Regions from separate parts of the Homo sapiens genome. Here all the other regions are linked to region 4. Evidence: fine-mapped expression QTL. A gene starts in region 4. Each other region holds a variant in brackets. All regions are shown on one strand. Distances are from middle to middle.

Region 1 (6,315 bases), 330 kb before region 4:
GCCTGCTGTTCCAATTCCTTTGTCCCAAGGGGTGATTCCTTAATGTGGTGCTCTCCCCTTTCCCCTAGGGATGGGGCATCCTAAGAGCCAGACGGCAGTGATTGTTATTGCTCTTTTGGGTCTAGCCACCCAGCAGGGCTACCACACTCTGGGCTGATGGTAGGGAATGCCTGCAAAGGGCCCAGTTATGTGATCAGTCTTCTGGTCTCCCAGTCATATATAACAGCACCTGCTCTGGTGGAGGTGGCAGGAAAGTGATATAGACTTTGTGAGAATCCTTGGTTGTAGATAGGCTTAGTGTGCTAGCTTTCTCAAATACTGGTTGGCAGCATTGAATCCTGGCTAGCAGCAAAGTTGTCATGTGGACAGATTTGGGACCTGTGGTTAGCCAGGATATTGCAGCCAATGGTGTTAGCTGTTGTTTTCTTCTTCCTGGGAACAGTGTTATTCTATCATGAGTTGCTGTAATGGCCTGAGTTAGTTGGCCTCCAACCAGGAGGTGACACTTTCAAGAGAGCACCAGCTGCGGTATTAGCAATGGAATTTGAGACTGCCCCAAGTTAGCCAGGGGAAGTATTCTGGTTTCTCAGGTGATGGGTGGGGCCATAAAGCTCCCAAGTGTTTATGTCCTTTGTGTTCAGCTAGCAGGGCAGGTAGAGAAATACCATCAGGTGGGGCAGGGTTAGGCGGGTCTCAGCTCAGATTCTTCTTGGGTGGGGCTTGCCACGGCCACTGTAGGGGATGAGGGGGTGGTTCTCAGGTCATTGGGGTTATGTTCCAGAGGGGATTATGGCTGCCTCTGCTGTGCAGTATACTTCACCAGGGAAGTGGGGAATAGCTGGTAGTGAAAGGCCTCACCCACCTCCCACACAGTTGGTGAGACTGGTCTCGCTCCCACAGTGCCCTGCTAATAGTTTAGATCCAGGCAACCTGTGTGTGGAACTCAGACCTTTACCTGGCCATTAGCTTCCCTGCTGAGAAAACAAGCATGGCTTTCAGGCCATGCCCTTCCCTGTCTGCTCACAATGTCAGTGGCTCTGTGCTTATATCTGCAGCAGATCCCACTCGCCACACCCCCACTCAGGATTCTGTTCAAGGAAGTTTGTGCACAGTCAAAATTATCACAAAATTCAGCTGGAAGCTTCTTTCACCTTGTGACCCCTCCCTAATTCTGCTGGCTCCCTTCCCCAAGGGCTCCTGTGAGATATAGTCATGGACGGCTTCCCTGGGCTGAAGCTGAAGACTGGGAGTATCTACAAAGCTCTTTCTGCTGCTGCCTCTACTTTAATATTGCACATGGCTCCATAAGTCTGTTCCAGCTGTAGGCAAAGTTAAATCCTTCTCCAGTGATACGGATTTTGAGACTCCCCAATGGGGAAGTGTTTTCAGAGGCAGGTTTTCCCCCTCGTACACTTTGGTAACTAACAGTTTTTGCCTGTCTCGTAGAGTTTGCAGCAACATGACACTTCTTTCAAAGGATCTGTAAATTCTTTCTGTTTCCCTCATACATTCCTGTGACGATTCTTGGTGCAAAAGTTCACAGTGTGAGTCTCCACACGCTGTTCTGTCCGTTCAAGTGGGAGATGCACATTAGCCCTGTGTCCTATCCACCATCTTCCTGAGTTTTACCTTGACTATTTTTAATACTGCTGCTTTGAGTGAAGCAGAAGTTAAAAAGGGAAAAAAATTTTCTTCCTTTCCTTTGGTATGAGCAGCTTCCCCATCGAATCCCTCCCTGCTCTGTGCCATTGTACCCTGAGCTACACCATTGTACCCTGCTCTGCAAGTTTTTATGAGTTTATAGATTCCTGTTTTCTGTAACTAGTATCTGTAAATCTCTGTAGCACTGCAGAGGTCATGCGACATGCTTGAGTAAGATATGATTGCAGCCATCTGGGCGCTGTAGCGAAGGACACGAGATAAGATTGTGCAGGCATCTGAGCAAGCCTAGATAACAGCCACCTGGCCCACATAGCAGGAGTCACATGAAAGCCTGAGTTATGAGCCTGTCACTGTTTGATAAACTGTCTTTGTTCTACGTGCTTTTGCGTCACTGCATTTCGTGCCACAGATGCATGTATAAAAGTCAAGCCCTGTCTTTTTCTAGGGTTCAGCCTTTTGGATGTGAATCCGCTGAGCAGGTGCCCCTAAATAAAATCCTTCTGTTCCACCCTATTGGTCTCTCCGGTCTCCTGATTCCCACAATATGAGAAACCCAGAATATGTCTTTTGGTTAACATGTGTGTGCATTTCTGATGGGCATAAAACTAGGAGTTTAATTTATAATTTATAGGGTATACATATGTTTAGATTTACTAGGCATAGCCAAACAATATTCCAAAGTAGTTGTACCAATTTATAGTTCCACCATTTTATATTTTAAAAAAAATATGTGTCTTACTTATATATATACTTTAAATACCCTCCTCACCCCTTCAACTTTTTTTTTTTAAACAAAGCATGATATTTGATTTTGTTCTTTAACCAGTGGATCAAAAAATTGTCACAAAATGCCAGATGGAAATTTTCTGTATGTGTATATAATTCTTTTCTGCTGCTTCAGAAAATGTGAGAGTCTTCTCTTTAGATCATAAAGCGACATATGACAGCACCTCTCATGCAATAGGTGCTCAGAAGTTTGTAGAATCAATGAAGTCAAAAGAGAAGAATTAGAAAGATTCATCATTTTATGATTCAACTGTTAAAGTTTATTTAAATATCCAAATGGATCCAATAAAAGAACAAACATAGAAAGAAATAATTCAATTTCCTTTATTTGTATGTTTTCAATGACCAATCATTTGTGGGGAAGAAGGTTTTGATGCTGGCACAGATTTTTTAATGCAGTCAGGGAGGAAAAAACTACAGACTAAAGATGATGTATTTGATGTTGGTATCATTATTGGCAAGAAATAATACTGTTGCAAATAGTTTTTTTAAAGATGATCAGTGGGTGAATATGAGTCTCTTCAGGACATAATCTGTGCCATATTCAGTTTTTATCTCCTATGGTGTTTGGCGTAAGTAATGAATACAATGTGATTATTTATGAAATAAATAGTTTTTAAAAACCCAAAATAAAATAAACAAGCAGAAAATTATCTGCAGTTTATTACATCTAATTCGATTTTATTTAAACCACCCAAAGTGATGGTCAGCAAACAAATAAGAGCTTTAGAGAAAAAAATAAAACAGGAGATTAGGAGAAAAGAGATGGTTATATGATAAGAAAACTTATTTGTGGGCTGTGCTTCAGGTAATATTTAACTTTTAACCTTTCTAACCCTATCATTCCCCAAATAGTTTCCTGGCATCAATGATTAAACTAAAAGGAGTATTTTTATTTTTAATCATTTATTCTATGGGAAATTATAAACTTTTATACATCTAAGCACAGCATCTTATTTTAAAATTTTTTTCAAGAAGTTTTATTTTATTCTTCTTATTGTTCTTAAAGTCTAGGTTAAGTTCACCTAAATTAATGCCTTTTAAAATAGTTTAATAAATAGGGCATTTTATAAAATTCTAATCTCAGAGGATAGATCCAGGCTCCATATTTTCTGGTTATAACCAACATCCAGTGCCCTTTAAAGAAGGGACTATATGTTGCCCTAATGTTTTCAACTCAATCTTTCAGGTAATCTAATAGCTGTACAACATTTAGACAATCCTCATAGGATGTGACAACAAGCAAAAACAAAGATGAAGTGCTAAGATTTGGAATCATTCCAGAAATGGAATGATTATCTGAGGACTTTCTCTATGTTATTTTCTACTTGGCTGTCAAGAAGATATGGGTGTTGTGGGGCAAGGGGCAGGGTGTTTGGTGGTGTTTTTTTTTT[C/T]TCTCTCTCTCTCTCCTAAATTCAGAATGTATCTAAGATTTTCTGGATATCAGAGATGCTGATGAGTCATGAAACCTTCAGGATTCTGAGATGCAATTTAATGAAGGGATTCCAAATTCCAAATTATGCAAGAACTCACTGACTAATCAGTAGATTGACAAGATTATTTGATTTTTTTTCACCCTCCTCGTTTTGAAACTGAGGGCTAACCTGATTAAGCCTGCCAAACTTAAGCAGCCTTGGCTGCTTTTAATCACTTACTTCTAGTTGATCTTAGAACTCCCACTAGCAAATCACATAGCCAAACAATACATATCTAATATTGGACTAACTTCCTTGTTGATAACATTTCTGACTGTGGATCATTACAGTAATGGTTGCTTAAAGTTGTTTTTTAGAAACTTAGGGACAGCTCCTGTCCAGTTCAAACTAGTTGAGATCACCAACCCTTCAACCAGGCTTGTGCAAATGCTCAAGAGGTAACCTTTTGACATCACATGACCAAAAACTCCTTTTTCAGATCATGCTAATGCCATTATCTGAACATGTGTCCAGTGAATAGCCATGTAGCTTGATTACACTTGCACAGAAACCCTAATTACCTCACCTTTCTTACTTGCCAATCACCTTTTCCCACACTTTAGACCACCTGTACTATTTTGGGGAAACCATATTTGAGAACTGGTCTCCTACCTCCTCGCTTGGCTGCCTCATGAATAACCCCTTTCTCTTTTGCAAAACCCATTGTTACAGTGATTGGCTTACTGTGTGTGAGCAGAAAGAGCCTGGTTAGGTATCAGTTTCTAACCTACAAATGTTTCCCTATTCATTATAGCTCCAGAGGGTATGAATGAAAAAAGAAGGAAAATATAACTCTAATAAATCTTTACTTAGGTAGAATTATCATAATTAGATTAAGATGGTTAAGTTTAAGAAACGTGAGAAGAAAACCACTGTTGACTTTAGTAATAATTATCCATGTAATTTTCTATGGGTTTTAAATATTCTTAGCATAATAAGGTAACAAAAAAATATGAAACAGTGCCTCAGACTTGTGAAAATGTTGAAAGTTTAACTCTTCTGTGATTATGTTATTAGAGCCTTGAGGCAAGAAAACAGACTGGTGGATAGGGTTTGGGTTTGTGCTTTTAGAAATGTAGTCTTGCTCTGTCATCCAGGCTGGAGTGCAGAGGCATGATCATAGTTCACTGCAGCCTCCAGCTCCTGGTCTCAAGTGATCCTCCCTCCAAAGCCTCTGGAGTAGCTGGGACTACAGGTATGTACCCCACACCCAGCTAATTTTTAAAATTTTTTGTAAAGACGGGGTCTCACTATGTTGCCCAAGATGGTCTCAATCTCTTGGCCTGTCCTCAAGCAGTCCTGCCACCTCAGCCTCCCAAAGTGCTGGGATTACAAGCATGACAAGCCCAGCCCAGGTTTGGAGTTTTACTGTGAAGAAATGGATGCTTCTATCCACAACTGTTTTTGGAAAGAAGAGAATTCAGCTGTGCAGAGAAAGAGTTATTTTTGTGGCTCAGCAGTGGAGATTCAGTGGTGTGGGCAAGAAGGAATTAAATTGCAAGCCAGAGATAGAATGAATTGGAAGTGTTAAGGAGGAAAATATAGAAAGGAAAATAAGTAGGAAACCTGACATGCATTATGCAGAACTTAGGGTTCCCAGGCATTCTGTCTCAGAAACCTTAATCCCAGCTTCCAATTTACCATGAGATCTTAAGAAAGTCACTGAATTTAACCTGCCTTCTTAAATATTTTAAACGTGACCTGAAGATTTCTCTGTACATGGTGAACTATAACCTAATTAAATGTTTAAATAGACTATAACTTGCTCTTCTACCAATCACTGAGTTTCAGCTAAAAGGTGGCCAACTGTTCAAGCCATGTTGAATTAAGGCAAATGCCAACTATAACCAATAAGCTGTTTCTGTGCCTCACTTTCTTTTCTTTCTTTTCTTTTTTTTTTTTTTTTTGGGATGGAGTTTCATTCTTGTCACCCAGGCTGGAGTACAATGGTGCGATCTCGGCTTACTACAACCTCCATCTCCCAGGTTCAAGTGATTCTTCTGCCTCAGCCTCCCAAGTAGCTGGGACTACAAGCACCTGCTACCACACCTGGCTAATTTTTATATTTTTAGTAGAGATGGGGTTTCACCATGTTGGCCAGGCTGGTCTGGAACTCCTGACCTCAGGTGACGCACCAACCTCAGCTTCCCAAAGTGCTGGGATTACAGGAGTGAGCCACCATGCCCCCGGCCCACATCACTTTTCTTTTTCTGTCCATAAATCCTCTTCGATGATGTGGCTGTCCTAGAGTCTCTCTGAATCTATTCTGGTTCAAGGGCCTCGTTAATTCCTGAATTGTTCTTTGCTCAATTAAACTCTGTTAAATTTAATTTGTCTAAAGTTTTTTGTTGTTGTTTTGTTTTGTAGACAGGGTCTCACTCGGTCACCTAGG
Region 2 (6,315 bases), 120 kb after region 4:
ATTGGGATATAACCCCATCATATTTTGAGGAACACCTGTATTAGTATATTGATGACAACACATGAAATATATAGAGAGCCTAAGGGTACTCAGGAAGGAACCCTTCCTACAAGAGAAGGTGGATTGACTTTCCCCGTGTTGATTAAACAATGCCGTTTTTCACTACATGTTTACTTTTTTTTCAATGGAGAAAACTAACCCCAGCTGGAGACCTCTAGGAGGCCTGGCTAGACCCTAAGAATGAAATATTAGAAGACAGAACAAAGGCTTAGAGAACTAATCATACTATAAATCAGAATATGTGAAAACCAAGAATTAATTTTAAACAAAGAGATAGTTTCCCGCCACTTGTCATTTGGAAATTATGTTCCTTTAAGGGAAAAAAAGAGTCCAACAACCAGGTAAGAAAAATACCTGCCCCTTCTTTTGCAGGTGCGTGAACAGACAGTATATATTTACAAAAGATATAGGACATCATAAAGGGGAACTCCACATATATTTCTTGTGGCTTATGAGTTTTACTGCATAATCACGACAATCATTTTTTTCACCCTATCCAGAAGAAACATTTCTTAAGAAATGTATATTTAGTTCTTTACCAAGTTGTACTGGTAATTCTGTCTTCTCTTTTCCTTCAGAACATGTACTGTGAACTTTCAGGGCTCTGAATATAAAACTTATTGCAATATCTTAAATACCATGGCCCTGAAGGGTCAAGGGAAGTCTTCTGGGCAGGTAGTCTCTGTTCAAGCTGGGAATTATGTTAAGCTATGCTGTGCCTTAGTTTCTACCCTAAAAATTGAAGGTAGTTATAGGAAGCCTGACATATATCCCTGGGAAGGAATAAAGATAAAAGAAGGCATTACTGTATCACCACCAATGCCAGATACAATGGGATTTATCTTGCTTCTCTCACGTGGTCAGGATCAGGCCAGTTCAGGTTAGTGTCCTCTTTGTTCCCCAAACCAAAAGGTATTTATGAAATTGAGCATAAAACCCACCACTCTGTGGTCAGAAATCTAATCATATCACACTTCTGATTTAAAACAAAGCCAAAAACAAAAGTAATGCAGTGATAGCTGTTCTCTGTTGAAATATCAAGTTTTGTATTCCTGAATGTGTCATATAGGGCAAACTGTTCTTCCTCCCCCTTTGATCTGATTCTCCATTCTGTCCTTAATATCACCCATAGCCCATCTGATATAATATTTTGATATTTGTCCCTGCCCAAATCTCATGTAGAATTGTAATTTCCAATGCTTGAGGTGGGGCCTGGTGGGAGGTGTTTGGATCATGGGGACGGATCCCTCATGGCTTGGTGCCTTCTTCATGATAGTGAGTTCTAGCAAGATCTGGTCACGTTAAGAGTGTATGGTACCTCTCCCCACCACACTTGCTTGTTCCTGCTTTCGCCATGTGACTTGCCTGTTCTCACTTTGCCTTCTGCCATGATTGTGAGCTCCCTGAGGCTTCACCAGAAACTGAGCAGATGCCAGCACCATGCTTGTATAGCCTGCAGAACTATGAGCCAATTAAACCTTTTTTCTTTATAAGTTCCCCAGACTCAGGTATTTATTTTAAGCAATGCAAGAATGGCCTAATACACCATCCATGCAAAGTTCTTCCCCAGACTTTCCAGAAACCTGTGGGATCCTAGCGTTTTCCTCATGCCATTCCATCTGCATAGACTGCATCCCCAATAGCCTTTCTCTGCCTCCTACAACCCTCAGGTGGTATGTGCATTATGAAGCCTTCCCAGATTTCTCTAAGTAAAGCTAGCCTGTGCCTCTGTGTGTTCCAGTGGTATCTCTATGCCCCTGTATTAGAGCATTTACCTCAGTGGTAACATTCTGAGTGGTGATACAGTAGTGCCCTCCTTTATCCTTATTCCCTTCCAGGGACATATGTCAGTACTTTAGAGTCAATTTTTGATATCATGTCCTCTCCCCATCCCCACCCTAGCCCTCAACACTGTCAGCTCCTTCTCAGCAGGGAGGCTGTCCTTGGTATTGAAGTTCTCAGCACAGTGCTTCGCAAATGGTTGGCACTTAGCCAATAAATGCAGAATGAAACAAATACCATTGACATATTCTACACTCAGTGATACGATTTGGCTCTGTGTCCCCACTCAAATCTCATATTGTAGCTCCCATAATTCTCATGTGTTGTGGGAGGGACCCAGTGGGAGATGAGTGAATTATGGGCGGGGGTCTTTCCTGTGCTGTTCTGGTGATAATGAATGGATCTCACAAGATCTGATGGTTTTAAAAACGGGAGTTTCTTTGCACAAGCTCTCTCTTTGCCTGCTGCCATCGACGTAAGATGTGACTTGCTCCTCCTTGCCTTTTGCCATGATTGTGAAGCCTCCCCAGCCATGTAGAACTGTAAGTCCAATAAACCTCTTACTTTTGTAAATTGCCCGGTCTCAGGTATGTCTTTATCAGCAGTGTGAAAATAGAGTAACACAGTCAGCATATCTAAAAATTAACTTAATGACCCAGCAGCTTATCAGGTGCTGCCCCTTGGCCCCAGAATGTTCTCTTGGATAATATTTTGCCATCTTTAAGCAGGTAAAGAAAGTGCTAACCAAAGTTATTACGTATCTTCTGATAAGCAGGTTTTACTCCTTATTCGACCAGTTTTCATGGACAGATTGATTAGCCATTTCCACTTACCCCCTCTGTTTGCTGCATACTTTCAACAGTCTTTGACTCACTAGTCTACATTTCTCATCCTGTTTAGATTAAGCTTTTGGCATTAAATTATTGCTTGGTTTAGTAATAGTATAATAGTCATAAAAATCACTGCTATATTATTAGTTCATTTATTGTCATCAAATAAATTAACTAAACAACAACACACTTGGATGTATAATGCTGTGAATGCTAAAAGCCATTGAACTGTGCACCGTTTTGAATAGGTGAATTGTATGGTATGTGAATTACGTCTCAATAAGGATGTTAAAAAATAACTCATACTTCCCAGCATCTAAGGATTAGGATCAAAAAATAAAAAAAACTCATACTTTCTTGAGCATACTGATTATTGCTCACTTTTCATCATTTTGTGCTTTCCCATCCACTTGCTAAGAAAGTGAGGTTCAGAAAGGAGAAGTGACCTGTTTGGCATGACAAAGTTTGTTATTGGTAGAATCAGAGCTGGGACCCAAGTCTCTTCATGCCCAGTCTAGAACTCATTTTGTTTTTATAATTTTGTCCCCGTGTTGGCAGTTGTACAGTGGCATTTGAGGAAGTTTTACTGAGTCCTAACTCAGTATAAGGACACTTCTTCTGACATTGGGTGAACCCTTGGACTACCTAAAATGCTACTCTTTTTTGATTTTTAATTTTTATGGGTACAGAGTAGGTGTATATATCTATGGGTACATGATGTGTTTTGATACAGGCATGCAATGCGTAATAATCATATCATGAAGAATGGGGTAAAATGCTATTCTTATGCTGAAACCTTCTATGGTTATATTGATTGGAATTGCTCTTCCAGGGAAAAGCAGCACCATGATGTATGTATAATTATAATGATTTCATTCATAAGATACACGATTTCATTCATAAGATACAAAGGAAATTGGGTT[GT/G]TTTTTTTTTTTTTTTTTGTATTTATAAGAAACAAGGGAGAAGAGCTACCTGAACCTATTTAGGTTTTGGATTCAGGTGCAGGGGATTTCTGTAACAGCTTAGCATGCTTTTACTCTACCTTCCATATTGAGTCAGGATCCCAGGGGGGAAATAAGTTGTGTAGCAGCCCCCAGAGTACTGCTCCTCACACCAGTTCTTTTCTTCATAATGCACTGGCTGCAAGATAGAGCAACAAAAACTTGAAGGAGACTCAGAGAAAGCTATTTAGCCTAGAATAAATCGAACAGTTTAGTAGGCTTTGTATTGTCAAACCAATGTATTTCGGAAATAGAGTTGCATTATCCTGATGTTTTTAAAGATATGTCTTTGGGCAGGTAAATGTCCTTGGTAATAAGCTTCTAAGAAATTCAGATCTTAGAATGTTTTTTTCATTTGGTTTCTTTGTATCTTAAGTACTGTTCATAAATTGCGATAATCTAATTCCATTTTTACCTTGGTTTTACCTATTAAAAAGTTTTAGTGCCTGATGGTTTCAAGAAAAGTTTTTAAAAGGATTTATGTTTACTGGAGTGACTGGATAGGAAAAAAAGACAGAAAAATATGTCTGTTGAAGAAAAAGGATTATCAGGTTCATGTTTTGGTGGAGGTGAGCTTTCTTGAGGGAGGCTGAACAAACATGTTTTTGTGGCAGGCAAGCACTTCTGTTGATGGTGGTATTTGTAAACAACTATTGGTCTGAAAAATATGTTTTTGACACGAACAGGAAAAATTGGCAGAGATTTTGTAAAGCTCAAATGCTTTTTTAAAGTAACCAAACAGAAGCTTTATCATTAAGCATTACTTCGAAAAGATAAAATCAACGTAGCAAGTTTTAAGAAAACAATGTTTGTTTTAAAGGGAGATTTTGAAAAACATTTTGTTTAAAAGAATTGCAATCACACAGCTGACTTTGGACAGTCATTTGTAAGGCATCCTATTTACAAAGTATGATTATGAGGTTCTGCCTGATGGGTTAAGTGGCTCCAGGTCTTCTGTGGTATCACCACGCTACACGCCCCAGCACCTGACGGCTACATCCACCTCCTAAGCAAGCTTCTCTGGCTGTCTCCAGCCAATCAGAAGAAAAGTTGGACTTTATCTTTCAATGTATCTTGTTCCCAGGAATTTCTTCCTTCCACAAAATAGACACCAAAGCAAAAAGAAAACAAGTGGCCTTCTCTATGCCAAGAGCAAACAAGGACAGGACCAACTTATTTTTATCATCAGGAATTAATCATGCACACCCTTCTTAGGAAAAGAGACTTTCTCAAATGAAAAATGATCAGCCTTTTTCAAAATATGAGGACAAATGCTTTCCCCTTCAACTGAAGTTCCCCAAACAACCATCTCACGAGTTGTTGCAGGAACTTCAATTAACAAACTGCTTTAGCCTGGGAGTGCCTCAGAATGTAACTTCACAAAGCTTGAATATCTACCAGGGTGAAATATCTTGAATGGCTTTTTTTTTTAAATCAACTCCACACTCTTTATTCTCCAGACCTCTAGCACTGAATGGCATTTTTTTTTATTATACTTTAAGTTTTAGGGTACATGTGCACAACGTGCAGGTTAGTTACATATGTATACATGTGCCATGTTGGTGTGCTGCACCCAGTAACTCGTCATTTAACATTAGGTATATCTCCAAATGCTATCCCTCCCCCCTCCCCCCACCCCACAACAGGTCCCAGTGTGTGATGTTCCCCTTCCTGTGTCCATGTGTTCTCATTGTTCAATTCCCACCTATGAGTGAGAACATGCAGTGTTTGGTTTTTTGTCCCTGCGATAGTTTGCTGAGAATGACGGTTTCCAGCTTCATCCATGTCCCTACAAAGGACATGAACTCATCATTTTTATGGCTGCATAGTATTCCATGGTGTATATGTGCCACATTTTCTTAATCCAGTCTATCATTGTTGGACATTTGGGTTGGTTTCAAGTCTTTGCTATTGTGAATAGTGCCGCAATAAACATACGTGTGCATATGTCTTTTACACTGTTGGTGGGACTGTAAACTAGTTCAACCACTGTGGAAGTCAGTGTGGCGATTCCTCAGGGATCTAGAACTAGAAATATCATTTGACCCAGCAATCCCATTACTGGGTATATACCCAAAGGATTATAAATCATGCTGAATGGCATTTTTAAACAGAAAAACTAATAATTTTTAACAGATGTTAAGTTCTGTTTTTAGTGAGTATATACTGTATTTTTTGTCTTGATACTTTACTCAATATCCTTGAGCCTGGAGGCTATGCCTATATTTAAACTTGCTAATTGGTATATGAAAGCAAAAAAAAAAAGCAAAACATATTCCTCATTAATATTGTTTCTCTAATTGTTCTAGTTTATTTGCTGAGAAAGAATTCCAAGAAACATCAAGAGCATGTGTTTCACCTGTATCAAGTACAGAAGATCTGCAATGGTGGGGCGAGGAGGGAGGGAGAGAATTTTGCTTTAAAATAGTGAACAAAAATGACAAATTTGAAAGACACAACAACTTAACCAGGAGGAAGCAAGTCACTCCAAAGCTGAGCAAAGTAAGTGTTAGAGTAATAGGACTAAGTCATGTAGCTGCTCAACTAGATTGTGGTATATACTACAGAGACTTGGATTTAAGAGGCTTAACAAGTTAAACATTCTCAGCCTCCTCATTAGACTTTTCTCACGCATTAACTG
Region 3 (6,315 bases), 120 kb before region 4:
CTAATCCTTAGCTTGAGCCAGTTATGGATGAAAGTCTTTAGAACATAGGAATATTATGATCAAATAGCTGCAGTGGGGGTAAGAGAAGTGGCCGTTAGAGATTACTTAGTGAATCATCATTCCTCATCTGCTCAGCCCAATCCCACCTAACCACCAGCCAAGCTGTCTCACCACCAACATACTCTAAGCCCCTATGGTAAATAAAAGATCTTTGGTGAGGTGAGGCCTTGCTCCCCATGACTACTTGATTTTCCACCTAGGCTTCTGTAGGGAAGTTGTTGAGGAAGGCACTCCATTTCCCCAGAGATCCCTAAAGAGCATGTACATACTTCCCCAGCTATGTGATTTAGAGCCTGTTCCTCTACCTCACTGAAAGGGAAAAAGAGTACTTATAAAATGTTTACTACTGTTAATCCTTATAACAACCCTCTGGAATTCTTACTCTTTAGACTTCACAATGAAGGGGATCGGATTGTGCCAGCCCAAAATATGCCACTTTGGCATAAGGATTATTTTGAGCTAAAGGCAATTAAGAAGCAGCAAGAAGAGAAAAGGAATTCTTTTTTTGGGGGTGTTGGGGGGGCCGGAGTCTCGCTCTGTCACCCAGGCTGGAGTGCAGTGGCGTGATCTCGGCTCACTGCAAGCTCCACCTCCCGGGTTCACGCCATTCTCCTGCCTCAGCCTCCCGAGTATCTGGGACTACAGGCGCCCGCCACCACGCCCAGCTAATTTTTTGTATTTTTAGTAGAGACGGGGTTTCACCATGTTAGCCAGGATGGTCTCGATCTCCTGACCTCATGATCCACCGGCCTGGGCCTCGGCCTCCCAAAGTGCTGGGATTACAGGCGTGAGCCACCTCGCCCAGCGAGAATAGGAATTCTTTATCCTCCCTGCTTCTGCCTAAAAGCAGGGCGTAAGTTTCCCTTTGTGAAGGTGTCCCCCCCTCCTCTCTCCAGCACTGGGAAGAGGAGAATGACTCTTAATCACCACAGACACTGGAGATGGCCCTGATTTGAGTCTGCATAACAAAGCTTACTAATTAACCCTATCTTCTTTAATTTTTTTCCCATATATTTACCTTCCCACTATTTACTGCCCCTAAAAATCCAAACTACTTTTGCTTTGTCTAGTCACTTCTCCATAATTTATTGACCTTTGTTATAATGGTACATAAGGTCTGAAGTCTAACCACTTCTTTGGATTTTTACTTTTTTTAATAAAGTTCCTGCATGCATGCATAGTAAACATTTTCTTCTTTTGTCAATTTAATTTGCAGGCCCAGTGCTTGAACCTAAGAGGGCAAAGTTTTTCCTCCCCTACAACATTCGCCACACTTTACAGATGGGAAATTGAGTTGGAGAAATTGAGGCTAAAACAGCAAGTAGCTAGTGCCAGAATTTGGGACCTGTCAGTCTGATTTCAGTCCCTATGCTCTTTCTTAACTACTCCACTACAACTTCAGTTTAGAGAAACAGAATTTTTCCATAAAGCCCAGTTGCACACAGGGGCTACACTGTATTCAAAATACATGCTGAGTCTTTAAATACTAGAATCAGACTCAGTGAAGCAAGAAACATTGCAAGGAACATGAGACAGAAGCCTAGAATCTGCTGTCCCCTCAGGAAGTCTCAATCTGGGGCACATGCCTCTTGAGTGAAGGATGGGCAAAATTTCTTGAAGTGTTTAAATCCTTCCTTGTTATGTATGATCACAATAAGGAGATTATCAAAATGTGATTTCATTAATCACACAGTTTATTGCCATAAAAAGAGAATTTTTTTTTCCTTAGGTTCACAATGCTTATAAAGGGGGAGAATAACATGAACAAATCTCACAGGGAACACACTCAATAGATGAGGGACATTAAGCATATAGTGAATGAGATCCAAAATTATTAAAGTCTAGTTGTTCAATCAGGATGGAAGCAGGCCTCTGTGGAAAGTAACATCAAATGAAAGTTTGAGTTATACCTTTTGGTTACAAGCAGTTTTTTGGGAGCGATGGCATTCAACGTAACAGAGATCCATGAGGACATGTAAGGCCCCTCAGTGCTAGAGGACAGTACCAGTATTGGTGGGCAAGGCTTCAAAGCTCAAAGATTAACAGAGCAAACCTCAGGTATCAGAGAAGTGGCTGACAGAGAGCAGCCTGGTCACAGCAAACGCTCTCTGTCTCTCATATGAGGTCTGATAAGACATCACATGCTCGAGGGGAAGAAGGAGTATATTCCAAGTTCTTGCACAGCAAAACATGTTACTCACATAGCAAACTATGGAAGTATTTGGAATCATTTCCAAGATACATAACATTCCTTCATCCCTCTTTGCTGCACACATACAGGAAAATTTACGTATATTAAATGTGCACATGAGGCCAGGCCATCATTTGTAAAACAAGGCAAGGTGTGTGGGTTTTCAAAGTACTTAGAAATATAATTGACAAAGAAAATAGATAAAAAGGATCTAAGGCCTGTACACTGGTCAACTTCCTTGCCTGTGTGTTGCTTCTAGTTGGCCTGTGGTTGTGCAGCAGAATAGAAAACATTATTTCCGCTGGTTAATAGAAGACAGGTCTGAAGCCTCACGCAATTGAAGAAGTGTTGGCCAGTGCTTCTAACAAGCTCTGCAGGAGAAAGTGCAGCTAGGAGGATAAGGAGAAAATGGAAAACCTCAGGGAGGCTTCCTCCCAGCAAGCCTGCAGGAAGGCAAGGCACTGAGCATTTCTGACAGCTCTCTTGTTTTCTGCTCCCCTATTGTATTGATAAATATCACCAAAGGGCTTCTGAGCCTCGGACCTGGTGGAAGTACTTGGTTGAGCTGTTACTGATATTATGCACACATTCATACAGCTCCCAGAGGCTCAGGATTTGTTTGTCAAGAAAGCTACAATCAACACTTTCATCATGTCAGGAAGACATTCTAGGTTGTGAGCATGAGGCTAATGTCTGCACCCCTCACTTGGATGGAGCCACTTGGTCTCACATCATGAGATGTGAGCTGTAAACAGAAATGGCAGATGCTGTACATCCCACCTCATTACCTAGTGCCTTCAAATGAAAAGCGATAAACATGCTGCTACCTTAAGCATCTTGCACTTGTTCCACATTAATGGAAACTCTATGTTCTAGCTACAAGTAGTGGATTTCAGGTTGTTGGTTAATAACAATTCACTAATTTAAAACAAACAATTGGGGCATTCATTTGAAGGGTAGTTACTAGATGAGGAGACTGAACTCTCTCAGGCTTCATTGAACTTGGTTTCAGGTGACTCTGCAATGACAGACTTTGGATACATGCATTGACTTCATCAGCAGAAAGAAAGATTTTTATAATCACACGTTCCAGGATAATAACGAGGAAGGACAGGAGAGAGAAACAAAGAGAGAAGGGAAGAGGGGAGGGAAAAATCAGTGAGGGTGAGAGGAAGAGAAAAAGAGAACAGAGAGGTAGAGAAGAAGGGAAAAAGAAAGTGACGGGGGAGGGGGAACACACAGAGGAAAGGTAGAAGGGAAGAAAAAAAGAAAAGAAAGAAATACGTTCTATCATATACCATGTGAGTTGGAATATTATGGGAAGAAAAACAATAGCAGAGAGGTTTTGTTTGTTGTTTCTTAATGCAAAGAGGTTTTTGATTGCTACTACCACAGCTGGCTGTACTCCATGGTGACTGAGTTTTGTTTTTTGTTTTTTGG[T/G]TTTTTTTTTTGGAAAAGACCTAATAGAATAACTTAAGCAACCTAGGGAAACAAAAGACACAAAGGAAAAAGGAGATAAAGTTCCAGAGTGGTGCTGACCTGATTTTAGTGACATTTCTAATCCTGCCTAGAAGTACTCAGTAATTGACAGCAGGTAGGTTTTATTTAAAAGGGAGAAGAGAGAAGGGAAAAACATCGGTCATTAAATGCTGTTTACCATTTTGGCTCCCACCTTGCATTGAACCGAAGTTTGAAAGCAATGGCTAGAATAAACAGAAATAAAAATGAGAAGGTTCCAAGGATTTCTTTTTGGCAGTACTGCAATGCGGATCTGACAGAGCCAAGGGGCCCAGGAGCAGTCAGTAAGCACTGCAGAAAAAGTACATTCACAACTCTGCAGTTAGTTGCCCTGTAGAGGGTTTTACCAGGTGGCACTCCTTTCAGTATTTTTCTGTGTAAAATGGTATAACATTTGGTCTATTTTTGCTAAAAATAATATTTTGGCAGGGACTCAGAAAAGTAAGGTCGATAACGTTTAGAGGCTTGGTACTGTAACTACCTTATGGGTTCTTCCTGCCCACTGCACAGACAAAACCAATTCACTGAGACCATGCCATTGCAATAAAGAAAGAGTTTAATCAACACAAAGCCAGCCACATCATGTGGGAGAGAGTTATTACTCAAATCAATCTCCCTGAAAATTCAGAGGCTAGGGTTTTTCAAGGATAGTTTGGCGAGCAAGGGAAGGGGTGTGTGGAAAGTGGTCCTTCTTTTTTGGGGGTGCGTAGGGGGCAGGTCTGGGTGGAGCCATCATTGTCAGAAATGCAAAAACCTGAAAAGACATCTCCAAAGGCCAATCTACAATAGTGATGTTATCCACAGAAGTAATTGGGAAAGTTGCATATCTTGTGGAATATCTCTGGAATAAGGGCTGGTAATTACTTATGTCTACACCTCAGCAGAAGCCAGGGTCCTCTCATCCTCCTAACCTGGTGGCCTTTCATTAGTTTTACGAAAGAGGTTTAGTTTTGGGAAAGGGCTATTATCATTTATACTATAAACTAAATGTCTCCCAAGGTTAGCTTGGCCCAGGCCCAGGAAGGATTAAGGGCAGTTTAGAGGTTAAAGGCAAGATGGGGGTTGATTAGATTGGATATCTTTCACTGTCATAATTTTCTCATAGTTATAGCTTTTGCAAAGGCAGTTTCAATACTGAAATCATAGTTTGAAGACCAGCAGCAGGAGAAGCATCTGGGAGCTGGTTAGAAATGCAGAATGTTGGTCCTACTCCAGGCAGACTGAATCAGAATCGGCATATTAATAAAATCCCAGGGGATTAATACACAGATGAAATTTGAGCAGCCCTGGTTAAGAGAAAAATGGTAGGCTAACATCTCAAGTATCTATTTACTGAAGGCCTTTTGTTCTATCTGAGATCCTTAGTGCTTAACTGTGTATGCCCTTGCAAGTGACATGTGCAACCTCCATCCCCTTCCCCATCTCACGGCCAAGGCAGATGTTCCCAATTGATTAATCAATGCTGGACACCAGGAACACTGTCCTGAATTGTGAAGCTGAAAAGTGATTGGGTGAAAAATCTGGCTTAGCTTTTGTGTGTATGTGTGTCTTTATCAGAAGTTCTCAAGCTTTAGCATGCATCAGAATCATCTGGAGAACTTGCTAAAACACAGAGTGCTGAACCCCAGAGGCAGAGTTTCTGAAGCAGCAGGTCTGGGGTGAAGCCTGAGAATTTGCATTTCTAATTCATTCTAAATGCTGATGGTCCAGGGATTGTACTTTGAGAACCGCCAGACACTATCCTTTCCCTACCCCTCTCCCTCATATAAAGGCATTGTCATCTATCCTTGCCCTTGTTCTCTGCAAAGTGAGGGATAGTAGCTTGATGTGGTAACAAATATTGGCTGCTTAACCTGTTATACTCAAGAGAACAGAAATTTTATGAATATCTTAAAACAAACTCCTAAGAGTATTGTCTTAAATTATCTGCAGATGGTATTTTAAAAGTAAGAGTCGGCCGGGCGCGGTGGCTCACGCCTGTAATCCCAGCACTTTGGGAGACCGAGGTGGGCAGATCATGAGGTCAGGAGTTCAAGACCAGCCTGGCCAACATGGTGAAACCCCGTCTCTACTAAAAATTCAAAAAGTTAGCCAGGCGTGGTGGCAGGCGCCTGTATTCCCAGCTACTCGGGAGGCGGAGGCTGGAGAATCACTTGAACCCAGGAAGCGGAGGTTGCAGTGAGCCAAGATCGTACCACTGCACTCCAGCTTGGGAGACAACAGTGAAAACTCTGTCTAGAAAAAAAAAAAGTAAGAGTCATGTGTTAGAGATGGAGAGGAGGTGTTTGGGGGCAGTCAGTACCATGCTATGTCCTCTAGGTACCATCACCTAGACACTTGCCTCCGTAGGCCCTACCAACAGGACCAGGGGTCAGCTTCTGTGAATGTTTCCAGCAAGGCATGAGTCACTCTGCCAGGGAAACCCCTTTCTTTATCATAAAATATAAGGGAAAAAACTCTATCCAAAAAAGGAAGAAAGGTTGCCTTGCAACATTTTTGGGAAACAAGTAAGTTCTTTGTCTTATTGTAAAATGTGAAGCCTTCTT
Region 4 (6,315 bases):
TCTCCAAGTTGCAATCTAGGTATATTGCGACTTGCCTAAAGTCTTGCAGTGGCTTTTGTTGCTCTTAGGATCGAGGCCAAGGATGCTACCTTGGCCCAGTCGGCCTCAGCAGCGTTGTCTCCCCCTTGCCCAGAGCTCCACAGAGTAACTTTTAGTTGCCTTAATGAACTATGCTTTTTTTCTACCACAGGGCCTTTGCACACATTGTTTCTTCTTTCTAAAACATTTTTACACTCTCTGTCCCAAAGTTAATCTCCAGAGGGGTCAGGACTCAGGACACCCTAACACTTTCTTATCCATGTGGATCTTTCTAATATAACATTTGTCAGAGTTTGTATTTACACATCAGATAGACAGTTGTCTATGTCCTCTATTAACTCATCCACTAGACTGTGTGTTCGATGATGATGGTCTCTGTCTTGTGTTGCCTGTGTATCCCAGTACCATGCCCTGTGCCTAGCACATACTGTGAAATCAAGTATTTGAACGAAAATAAATGAAAACAATGAGAATAAGGAGAAAGGTGGACAGAATCACATTAGAAAGAGCTGATTTCTTCATATCTAGTTTTTCTTCTCTCTATGCTCAAAGTCTACCAAGATAAAAATGATTTCAATTTAGTCATAAGTCTCAAGTCCTTTTCTAGGAAGTAAAAGTTATTGAAACAGGATGAAGAAAAGACTAAATCCATATTTCTTTACAGTTTATTCAACAAGATGTTTGATACAGAATGGGGCGAGGGGCAACAGGAGGAATGTTTATAGGTGGGAGCAGACATCATTAGCTTCCTCGAGTTCTCATCACTTTCTCTAAATTTACGTCACGATTTCACCTATTTTTTTTTTTTTTTTTGAGACGGAGTTTCGCTCTTGTTGCCCAGGCTGGAGTGCAATGGCGCGATCTTGGCTCATCATAACCTCCACCTCCTGGGTTCAAACAATTTTCCTGCCTCAGCCTCCCGAGTAGCTGGGATTACAGGCATGAACCACCACACCCGGCTAATTTTGTATTTTTAGTAGAGACGCGGTTTCTCCATGTTGGTCAGGCTGGTCGTGAACTCCCAACCTCAGTTGGTCCGCCCGCCTCGGCCTCCCAAAGTGCCGGGATTACAGGCGTGAGCCACCGCGCCCGGCCAGATTTCACCTATCTTTGAGAGTTCCAGTAATGACAAATTCAGCTTTTGATGACAAATTCAGGATAACAAAAAGTGGAAAATTAAGAAAGGGATAAAACTAGCAAACAGAAGGCTGGCTGCACAGTAAAATATGTGCACTAAATAGCACTCTTTTCAGTAGGATGGGGAAACACATGTTTTCTTATTTCATTTGTTTCTGCACCTTAGCCATCCCTTTGACCTTTTAAAATGCAGTCCCACTTAATACATGATAGGTGAGTTATTTTTCTTGCCTACTTGCTTCGATTTGGGTTAAGCGCCTCAGCTTGAAAAACCCCACAGAGAACCAACAATTGCCTGGTCTCCCCCAAGTGACGGTTCTCGCCCCGCCCCGTCCCGTCTCGCCTCGCCCCGCCCCTCCCCGCTCCTCCCCGCCCCTCCCCGCTCCTCCCCGCCCCTCCCCGCTCCTCCCCGCCCCTCCCCGCCCCTCCCCGCCCCTCCCCGCCCCTCCCCGCCCCGCCCTCAACCTAGTGAGGGCTGGAGGCTGCGCAGACCTCGACGGGCCCTACATGACGTCACAAAGGGGCCAGACCAAGTGGGGCAGCACCCTGCGACCCTGCGATCCTGCCTGGCTCAGCCGCCTTCATATATCTGCTTCCTTAAGTCCACTCTTGCCCAGATAGCTTTCAGTTAAAACTAAAGAATGAAAGCACTAGGTTGAGAGCCCACGCGGCTACACCCACGTCTACTCCCCCACTCTCGCCAGGCAACCGCGCCCCCCGCCTGCAGTGGCATCGTCCGGCCACGCCCAGTGGCAGGGTTTCCAGCGCGAGCCTGCAGGCAGGCCGGGAAGGCGGAGCCAGGCCGGCCTAGAGTCACTTCTCCCCGCCCCTGACTGGGCCGGGAGCCCGGGGCTGGTCTCTAAGAGTGGGTACCGAGAACAGCCTGACCGTGGAGAAGGGCTGCGGGAAGCAGAACACCGCCCCCAGCGCCCAGCGTGCTCCAGAAACATGAGCACAAACGCCTCAGCCTCCTTCCCCGGCGGCACCGGCACCGGCACCAGTACCCGCACCAGTACCGGCACCGGCACCAGTACCCGCACCAGTACCGGCACCGGCACCAGTACCCGCACCAGTACCGGCACCGGCACCGAGCGCAAGGCGGAGGGCCCGCCCGAAGCCGGGGGCACAACTGCCCAGGTCCCGAACCCGGACTCCAGCTTGGACGACACCTCCTACAGCCTGTCCGAATGGAGCGTCCGTTCTGAGTGGCGGTCCGTCTCGGATCCGCTAGCCAGTTCCCAGTGGAGCACGTCCTCAACTGCCGAGGCCGCCTCCTGGAGCTCCAGCATACACTCCCCAATCAGCACTACCGGTCTTAGCGAGAGTACTGACTCCGACTCCAAGAGTGGCCTCCGGGGTTTCAGCGCTTACAACCCGAGCAGTCGGATCCCCAAGTCTACCACCAGCTCGAACTCCTCCGATGGGGCCGTCACAGCCTCCAATCAGGACACCGGCATTCCCTGGGTATTAGTAACAGGACCTACCCCGCCCGTAAACTCCCCCGTAGAGTCATTGCAAGGGTCTGCCTTCTCCTCAGGGTTCAGCACCCCACGGGGTTTGGTAAAAGGACCGACCCTGCCCCCGGATTCCAACCTGACCTCAGTGTCCGACTACACTTGGATATTTGTACGGGGACCTCCTATACCCAATGACCTTTCGCAAGTGTCAATACAAGCACCTCCTACACCCAGTAACACCCCCGAGTGTCAGTACAAGGGTCTGCCGCATCCTCAGTGTCCAGCTTCCCCTGGGGTTTGGTACCAGGACCACCTCTACCCAATAACATTTCCCCAGTGTCGCCACAAGCACCTCCTGCACCCCATAACATCCCCCCAGTGTCAAGGCAGGCGTCTACCCCCACCTCAGTGCCTGACACTCCGCGGGGTTCAATACAAGAACCTCCTGCACCCAGTAATCCTTTCCAGCTGCCGACACAAGGACATTCTAAACCTAATAACTCTCGCCGAGTGTCAGTACAAGGGTCCGCCCCGCTCTCAGTGCCCAGCTCCCCCCGGGTATCAGCTGAAACATCAGCTCCGCCCCTGGGCGCTCCCGGAGTATCAGCAAAAGGGTTCGCCCCGCCCACAGTGCCCGGCTCCCCCCGGGTATCAAAAGAAGGATCGGCTCCGCCCCCGGGCTCCCCGGGGGAGTTGATAGAAGGGTCCTTCCCACCCTTTGCCGTCCCCACTCCTGTGCCTACGACCCAGGAGCGTGTCAGCCAAAGCATGGAGAATCAAGAGAAGGCGAGTATCGCGGGCCACATGTTCGACGTAGTCGTGATCGGAGGTGGCATTTCAGGTCAGTGTGGACCGTAGCGGTGGCCTGGGGGACCCTGGCCAGTGAGGGGTAGGGGAACCTACAGTAGCTCTTGTGGTGTTTGGGGGTCTCTCATGCATGCGAGAGTGTAGTGTAGCCATGGCTTGGCCCCATATCCTGCGAGGTAGGAGTGGGGGTTGTGCCAGTTTTGCTGGTGGTGTGACTGGGGGAGGCAGACACAATAATTTTACTACTACTACTATTAAATACTAATATTTAATTAGCTCTTGCTGTGCAGTTGTATTTAGCACTTTACGTGGATTTTCTCAGTCCTCAACAGTCCTGTGAGGTGGGAACTAAATTCATCCCCGTTTTGCAAAACCAAGAAACTGAGGTCTGGGGAGTTTCAATAACTCTCTTGAGGTCGAATCACCTAGCTTGTAAGTGGCTGAACGATTTTCTCCCATTTAAGACCTGCAGTACTAATTCCTGAGGTGGCTGCTTTGCCTCACTGATTTCATATCCTTTGCCCTAAACAGAACATCAGGATACAGATTTCTGTAGTATTGAGGGAGCAGTAGTGTTATTCCAGTCCTGCTCTTCTCTATTTTCCGTAGAAAATTTAGTAGGTGAAGAGGAAGGAGGTAGACTCCTTTAAGAAAAGGTTAAAAAAAAAAAGAGGAGAAGAGGGGGTGAGCTCTTAAACTATTCCTGTGTGTGTGTGTGTGTGTGTGTGTGTGTGTGTGTGTATGAACTGTGTTTATATATATATATGAACTGTGTTTATATATATATATGAACTGTGTTTATATATATATATGAACTGTGTTTATATATATATATGAACTGTGTTTATATATATATATGAACTGTGTTTATATATATATATATGAACTGTGTTTATATATATATATATATGAACTGTGTGTGTGTATATATATATATGAACTTGCAGGAAGGTGTAGGACATTTATTGTCCAAAGAGAATCCCTTTATGAAGCAGGGGCTGAGTGCCCTGTTGTATCCTCCTTCCTCCTTTCACTAAGAGCTCCCACCACCTGAATCTTGTCTTCTGATGAGCCAGTTGGTGGGCCAGGGTGCCCCTGGTCCTGGCTTGGATTTGTGGCTAACCAAGTGAGTGGTGCATGAGGCTTTCCAATATCTTCCTGGAAGCCTCATCATGATTGATATATTGTCGCCTATGTTGCCATCATTGGTAAAATGTTTGAAAATTAGGAATTTTGTTGCCTTTCATCCCTGGCTAGAATACCACACTGACCTATCCTCCCCCTACTAGGTGTTAATAATTTCTGAGTTATCCCTGCAGGATCTGATTCAGAAAGAGAAAGCTGATGGGAGGGAGTAAGTAGAGTGGCCCCACAGTAGCCATTTTTATATATAAATCTTTCGAGGAGACTCTGAACATGCTACAAATTAATGTTGGGTAGAGATAGCTTTATCTGAACCCAACATTGTTTATCCTGAACAGGCCAAGAGAAGAGATTGGCATGAACTGTTGCTTTGCCAGTTCCAGCCAGTACCAGCAAAAACATACATGTATGTTGGAGCATCAGAGGAAAGCAGCTCCTGGTGGAGAGTAAGAAAAAGGAGTATTTCAGCTTGTTTCTCTTTATTTATTTATGTATTTATTTATTCATTCAAAAAACACTTGTTGAGTACCTGCAATGAAGTGGACTGCTGTTTCCCAAAATCTGGTCCCACTAGGCAAGCCTCCTAAAAGCAATATGGTTGTAGATCACTGGAAAATAAATATGATGACAATGTGTTATATACATTGACTAGGGGTTCTGGGTCCTCTCCCATCTCCATACCATCTGTATTCTGCAATTCAGAGTTCTTTCTGGGATTTTATTCTTAGTCTTTTTCTTGTTCAGTCTCCAGAATTCCTTAAGGAGCGCGGTTTTTTTATTTTTCCTCTGCCTGATTACCTGCTCTTCCTCCCTTTCTATACTTTATGCTCCATACTTGGTCATTAGCAGAGGTGAAATTACCATGTAGCTGATAAACTTTATGCTTTATGGCCTTATAACTGTAGGTTGCTTCTGGTTCTCATTCTAAATAAATAACCAGTTTCATACTCAGTCCTGTATTTGCAATTTTGCTTTCTTATTTCTTAGAGAGGATACCCAAGTTATATATAAGTTGTAGGTCCCACAAAACCTGAATCTGTCCATAGTCACTCTTAATTATTAATTTATTTCCATTTGGGGGAAGTAGAGGGCATTTCTTGCACAGTAGTTCACACCTCTATTCCAGAGGCCAGCTTCAGTGACACTGGAAAAAGCACTTGACTTCCTCTAATGCCATCTCCATCAGTCAGATCTGAGTGATTTTAATACTCAAACTGACCAGAAACATTGCTTTCTATCTGTGGTACCTTCCCAGATGGTTCACAGCTAAAATGAAAGTAGTTGCAAGTGTGGCTCGTGTTAGATCCTGGACATAAACTGAGTGTTTCATGAGCGGGTGAGAAGCATCACTTCCCAAGCATTCTTGTGAATTCAGAAACATACCATTTTTGTGTGTGCTTGGCAGTATCCCATGAATTACTTAATAGTCCCTGTGGCAGTTTTATATGCCTTTGGATGTTCTTTATAACTTTTATTAGGACTTGTACACTTTGATAGGTTACCCACACATTCATAATACATCACCAATCCATAGCATCAGCAGTGTTATTTCTATTATATAGCACCCAGAAGAGTACATATTCTAAGTGACATTACTCAAAATTGATCCATATTAGCAACATTTTTTAAATAACTCTCTACACAGAGAATAGCAGCATCTGGATGTATCTCCTTTTTTGTCATTATAAAACATAAAATAGACTATGTCTTACAACCACAAACTCTTTTTATC
Region 5 (6,315 bases), 32 kb after region 4:
ATTGAGAGTAAAGACAAAACTAGACTGTTGAAGTGACTGGAAAGAAAGGAAGCATCTATCTAACTAGAAGATGCTTCAGTTAGACTAATAACAGAATGGCGTAAGCAATGCAAACATTTGATTATTTCACAGAAGTCTGGTGGCAGATAGTCCAGGCTGGTGCTCTTGCTTTTTGCTCTTCTTTCTGCTCTGATATTCTTTCTTTTCTTTTCTTTTCTTTTCTTTTTTTTTTTTTTTTTTTTGAGACGGTGTTTTGCTCTTGTCGCCCAGGCTAGAGTGCAATGGTGCGATCTTGGCTCACTGCAACCTCTGTCTCCCAGGTTCAAGTGATTCTCCTGTCTCAGTCTCCAGAGTAGCTAGGATTACAGGCACCCCCCCCACCACGCCAGCCAATTTTGTATTTTTAGTAGAGACAGGGTTCCACCATGTTGGCCAGGCTTGTTGCGAACTCCTGACCTCAGGTGATCCACTGGCCTTGAAGCCTCCCAAAGTGCTGGGATAACAGGCATGAGCCACCGCACCCAGCCCTGCTCTGATATTCTTTGCATGTAGGTTTATTGTCTTGTGGTAACAAGATGGATGCTGAGATTCTAAGCATCAAGTTCTCATTCAAGGCTGAAAGGAGAGTGAAAGGGTGGCACTAGCCTTGTCTGCAACTAAGCTTTTCCTTCGCCAAAAGACCCCAGCAGACATTTGCTTTAGTCTCATTGGCTAGAGTTGAGTCACATGGCTACCCTCAGCTGTCAGGGATCCTGGGAAAGTAAGTATTTCACAATACTAGGCTACATAATGGAAGCAGGCATGGGAGAGGAAATATCAATGGATACTAGAATAACCTACAGACAACATTTGAATTAGGATTTCATAGCAGCGATTTCAGCCACATTGTACCATGCTACCCTTCTGTCATTTGCTTCCTACCTTTTTAGATACAGGGATGTATCTAGGCCTATTTCTGCTTTGCTCAGCTCTAAGGGTGCTGTACAGCCTTGCTATGCAAAGTGTCATCTGTGGGTCAGTAGCCCCAGAATCAACTGGGATTTTGATAGAAATGCAGAATATCAGGCCCTATCTCAGAACTGCTGAATCTGGATCTGCATTTTGACAACATCTCCAGGGGACACTATAGAAGTGCTACTCTGTGGCATTTGTTTGCTTGCTTGCCTTAAACTAATGCCAATCCGGATTAAATTTTCTGAGTGCTCCCTTAGATGTAGTCCACTGGGAAGCTATTGGTCTGGGAGTGAGGAGACTGGGATTCTAGCCTCTGTACTGACTTGACATGATGTCTTGGATAAGTCCTATTAGCACTTTACATCTCAGTTTTCTCATCTGAGTAATAAGATACTATCTAAATGTCCTCGAAGAAACTCCCTTCCATCTTCAAATTCTAATTGAAGGCAGCGTGTTATAGTGCAAATGAAGAGCTGCATCTTCTGCCTGTATGCCTTTATTAGATATGATTCTTCTGTCATTTTCTGAAAAATATTCCTCCACTTTGGAGATAGTTATTAAGTTGTCCCTTAGCTCTATTTTTCTTATCTCTAAAACCTTTTGGTTATTAAACAGGAGCATTAGTCATGTTGCGGATTTTCAGTTAAGAACAAGTTTCTTTGTATAAGGGAAATGAGAATTCCAACATACTTGTCCCCATCTGTGTTATTGGCCCCAATTACTTTGCCATGCTGTGTCATTTATATATGTCAGCACCACACAGGAACTGTTATTGTCTATTCAGCATGACATTACACCCCCCTTAGGAATGTGAGAAAGGAATCTCTGAAATGCTTGGAAATTAGGACTTAGCATTTATACTCCAAATGATGAGAAGGAGAGAAAGAGGGCTTTAAGAAACAGGCATGGAGGCCGGGCATGGTGGCTCACGCCTGTAATCCCAGCACTTTGGGAGGCCAAGGCAGGTGGATCACTTGAGCTTGGGAGTTTGAGAACAGCCTGGGAAACATGGTGAAACCCCATCTCTACTAAAAATACAAAAAGTAGCCAGGTGCAGTGGTGTACACCTGTAGTCACAGCTACTTGGGAGGCTGAGGTAGGAGAATCACTTGAGCCTGAAAGGCAGGGGTTGCGGTGAGCCGAGATTGCACCATTGCACTCCAGTCTGGGTGACAGGAGTGAAACCCTGACTCAAAAAATTAAAAATTTTAAAAAAGGAAACAGGCATGAAAATTGTATTTAATAAGAAACTGAAGCAAATATTTTTTAAATTGCTTCTAATAACATAATCAATTAGGATAATTTTGGGAGGAGATGCCATAAAAGCTACTATGGATCTCTGAGTACCAGAATGTCAAATTTGGTATTACCTGGCAAGCTGTTCAGATGCGTCTTCCATTAGTTCAGAACTTGCCCGTTTTTCCTAATGTGATTCATCCATGATTCTTCAGAGTCAAATTAATAAAGTTGAAATGCCTGCAGGGCTGCCACAGGGTTGGTGTATGTTTCCAATATTGTTGCATGTTTGTGGCCTCTTCAAAGGCTGAGTAGTGAGATCTAAATCAAGACCCCAAAGACTGAGGTGCAACACAGTAGAATACAGTGTTACCGCTTCTAGTGTCTTCATGCTGAATTTGAGGCACTTCATTTAGAACGTTCTTACTTTGTAAAGGAACATTCTGCAAAATGCCTCACTCTTTTTACTGCTTCATTTAGGATTATTTGCTTTAAAGATAGTGTCAGCATTCTAAAGACATCATGTTTGGAAACTCCCAGGAGTCCCCTTGCTGTCTTTGTTAAAGCCCAGAAATTTA[T/C]TGGAGTACTAATTCCAGTTTTGTTCATTATATCTTAAAATAGTTGTTGTAGATTAGAAAAGGTTTGAAGGACAGCACTGATGGTTACTAAAAGAGAGAATAAACATTATATGAGGGCACATTAAAGAAGTCACAGAAGCACTTCATTTCTGGTATTATGGCAGAATGGAAACCCTAACTCCTCATTGAAATAAGTAAAATGCTGAATACAATATGCTGTGCTCATCTGACATGGAAGTTAGAAATTTGTAGATCTCCTGGATGTTGCATAGACATCTCAAACGTAACACATCCAACACTAGACTTCTGATCTTCCTTAAGGCCGCTGTTCCAGCTGCCCATGTTAGAAGATGGCAACTTCGAAAAAACTCAGAGTCATGCTCAACACTACCAGACCCTCATTTGTTTTGTCAGGAAATTCCGTTGGCCCTGCCTTCAAAACATATCCAGAATTCAACGCTTCCCACCACTTCCACTGCTATCCCCTGGTGGGAGCCACCATTATATCTCTAGGCCAGATTACTAGAGTAGGCTCCTGATTTTCCTGCTTTTACTCCTGCCGCCTACATTCTGTTCTTTCTTAGTGCATCAGTGAGAGTGAGCCTTTCAAATGTAACTCAGATTTTAGCATTTCCCTGCTCAAGACCTTCCAACGGCTCCCCTTCTCACTGACAGCCAAGGCCTATGTCCTTACAATGTCCTGTGAGGCTTTACGTGACCTGCTCTGCCAATAACCTCTGTAACCTCATCTTCAATTTTTTTCCTTGCTCACATTGTTCCGGCCACTTTGGCCTCCTTGCTATTTCTTGAATATACCAGCAGACTTCTGTATTACAGTCTTTAGATCCATGTTGCTAGGAGTTTTTGCTTTTTTTTTCGAGACGGAGTCTCACTCTGTTGCCCAGGCTGGAGTGCAGTGGGACGATCTCACCTCACTGCAGCCACTGTCTCCTGGGTTCCAGCAATTCTCCCGCCTCAGCCTCCTGAGTAGCTGGGATTACAGGCTCACGCCACCATGCCCGGCTCATTTTTGTATTTTCAGTAGAGATAGGTTTTCACCACATTGGCCAGGCTGGTGTGTTTTAATTTCTACACCTGGAATGTTTTTCAGTTATTTTTCGTCATCACTGCATTGTGGTCAGAGAATATTGTTTCATGGTAACAATCCTTGAGGCTCGCTTTATAACCTAGCAAGCACATGGTTAATATCCAAAGATCTTCTAATTTCTGCTTGAAAAGAACATGTAGTCTCTAAAAGCTATATGCAGTGTTTTATATATGTCCACTAGAATAAGCTTAACTGTGCTCCTTCTTTTTTGTTTGCTTAATCTATTAATCACTTTTAAAAGTATGTTAAAAATTCTCTGTTCTACTGGGCACTTATCTTTGGTTCCTGTCAAATGTTGCTTACATTTTGAAGCTATATTACTCAGTTTATGCAAGTTTAAACTTGGTTAGCCTTCTGGATCTTTTAGCATTATGTAGTGACACTTATTTCACTGAGATTTATTTTGTTTAAGGTTTTCTTTGATATTAATATAGTTATAACAGCTTACATTAGTATTTGTATATCTCTTTATCTTTCAGTTAGAGTTTTCTTTATTCTGACTTTTTTTCCTTTTTTTAAATTTTAGATTCAGGGGGTACAGGATTTTTATTTATTTATTTATTTATTTTGAGACAGAGTCTCACTGTGTTGCCCAGGCTGGAGTGCAGTGGCGCAATCTCAGCTCGCTGCAACCTCCACCTCCTGGGTTCAAGCTGTTCTCCTGCCTCAGCCTCCCCAGTAGCTGGGATCACAGGCGCTGCCACCACACCCAACTAATTTTTGCATTTTTAGTGGAGTTAATTGACAAACTTGGTCCATCTATATTTGTTATGATTTCTTTTTTAAATGTTTTAACTTTATTATATTATGGCTTTCCATTTGTCCCACTTTAACAGTTTTCCTCTTGGTTTCTTTCTTTCCTTCTTTTGGGTTAATGGTTTTCTTCTTTTTGTTTTCTTTTTAAGTTTTTTCTTCTACTTGTTCAGAAGTTATATAGTCAGACCAATGTTTTTCAGACAATTTTCCTAACTATATTAACACTCATACTTAATGTAGTCTAAAGTTTATCAACATACTATCTTTCTACTAAAAAATACAAAAGCTTTCATGCTTCAGTTGTGAGCACCCTTCTTCCAATCTGTAAACTATAAAAGTATTTCAAGTTTGTATGTTTCTCAGACATTATTAATTTTATTTTATTCTATTGTTGATGTTGCTTAATTTTCTTTAAAGTTTTGCCAGTATCTTTGTTCACTGTCCATTCTTGAATCTCAGACCTTTTATTTGTAACCATTTTCATTCTACTTGAAACACACCCTTTCCTCCAATCTGGGTCCTAAACTCTGTACACTTGTCAGCTTGACAAAAACATAGTTCTAACAGGTAACAAATTCTACTTAGAATTTCTCTTCCTCTTTTTTTTTCTCTCAGAACAGCAAAGATATTATTCCCCTATCTTCTGGCTTGTATTTTTATTGTTGAAGAGTCACTCGTAAGTCTAATTGTTGATTTTTTTCAGAGTATGTATGATTTGCCTCTTTTGTTTTCTGAAAAAGAATTGCTTTTAGGAGCTCTTTTCTTTGGTATACTGCAGTTTCTCTGTGTCTGGGTGAGAATTTCTTTTTTATTTATCATTCTTTGGACCTGTTGGGTTTCTTATCTTCCAACAATGCTGGTAAATCCTCAGCCACTATTTTTTAATACTACTTAATATTTTGACACCATCTTCCATGTCTTAACTACCTCCTCAACATATTTTCCAATTCTTTATCTTTGAACTGCATTCTAGATAATTTATTCAGATCTAGCAGTTTACTCACTCTTTAACTATGTCAAATATATGGTTTAATCCATTCACGGAGTTTTAAAAATTTTAATTAGTACATTTTTATTGCTAGCAGTTATTTTTTAATCTACTTGATAATATTTTCAGTTTCTTTTCCCCTGCTCCTAGTTTTAATGACTTATTTTATTTAAAATATATTGCATAGTACTTTTAGATTCTGTGTATAATTCAACTATTATGAAATCTTTCTGGATTATTTTTTCTGCTTATTTTCTTTTGGTGCCTTGTTTGCATGTATGTTTTGTAACTTTTGGCTGTGGGTTGCTAATTTTCCATGGAACTTTATCTGTGTGTAAATTATTTGAGGCATAGGGGAAAAGGACTTAAGTCTACTTCTACCACCGTCCTTGACACTTTAAATTTTCTGCCCAAGTTTTTTCATATCATATGGATAGCTTAAATTCAGATGGAAAACATAAATAAAGATAAGCTTTTTTTTTCCTTTTCTTTGTGACAATACTTAGAGCTGCAAAATAATGGAAAATATAAAGTCGTGGATGCAGCTAAAGCAATACTTAGAAGATGTATAGTCTAAATTCTTCCATTAGAAAAGAAAAAGGCTATATATGAATAAGCTAATCATGCAAAGAGTTAGAAAATTAAGAGCAAAATAAATCCAAAGAAGGGGTAAAAAGGGAATAAATCAATGATGT

Direction of the effects. Positions count from the first base shown, and alleles are read on the strand shown. Sizes are in standard deviations (SD) of each study's normalised expression. Not every link is listed here.
As copies of C replace T in region 1, the expression in monocytes after interferon gamma of the gene that starts at base 3,359 in region 4 goes down (large effect, 1.7 SD a copy in Fairfax 2014).
For the expression in monocytes of the gene that starts at base 3,359 in region 4, allele T in region 3 goes with a higher level than allele G (moderate effect, 0.55 SD a copy in Fairfax 2014).

What was found. PIP is the estimated chance that this variant, and not a neighbour inherited with it, causes the effect. A credible set is the group of variants that fine-mapping cannot tell apart.
Region 1: its variant is the best candidate, but not a certain one, in a credible set for the expression of MAOA in monocytes after interferon gamma (Fairfax 2014, PIP 0.51).
Region 2: its variant is the best candidate, but not a certain one, in a credible set for the expression of MAOA in monocytes (Fairfax 2014, PIP 0.54).
Region 3: its variant is the best candidate, but not a certain one, in a credible set for the expression of MAOA in monocytes (Fairfax 2014, PIP 0.62).
Region 5: its variant is the best candidate, but not a certain one, in a credible set for the expression of MAOA in whole blood (TOPMed, PIP 0.57).

Annotation. Positions count from the first base shown.
Region 1 is chrX:43,326,615-43,332,929 of GRCh38, forward strand. No RefSeq gene overlaps it. Among named protein-coding and RNA genes, the nearest start is that of PINCR, 150 kb to the left of the region's middle. The variant C/T (reference allele first, on the strand shown) is at 3,843.
Region 2 is chrX:43,771,460-43,777,774 of GRCh38, forward strand. MAOB (monoamine oxidase B) reads right to left here. Exons shown (of 15, transcript NM_000898.5): 12 at 3,716-3,813. Among named protein-coding and RNA genes, the nearest start is that of MAOB, 110 kb to the right of the region's middle. The variant GT/G (reference allele first, on the strand shown) is at 3,596.
Region 3 is chrX:43,536,633-43,542,947 of GRCh38, forward strand. No RefSeq gene overlaps it. Among named protein-coding and RNA genes, the nearest start is that of MAOA, 120 kb to the right of the region's middle. The variant T/G (reference allele first, on the strand shown) is at 3,692.
Region 4 is chrX:43,652,941-43,659,255 of GRCh38, forward strand. MAOA (monoamine oxidase A) reads left to right here and starts at 3,359. Exons shown (of 15, transcript NM_000240.4): 1 at 3,359-3,474. The coding sequence starts at 3,402. RefSeq lists a silencer at 1,867-2,261 and an enhancer at 2,193-2,252.
Region 5 is chrX:43,684,653-43,690,967 of GRCh38, forward strand. The region is part of intron 2 of MAOA (monoamine oxidase A); the gene reads left to right. Among named protein-coding and RNA genes, the nearest start is that of MAOA, 32 kb to the left of the region's middle. The variant T/C (reference allele first, on the strand shown) is at 2,769.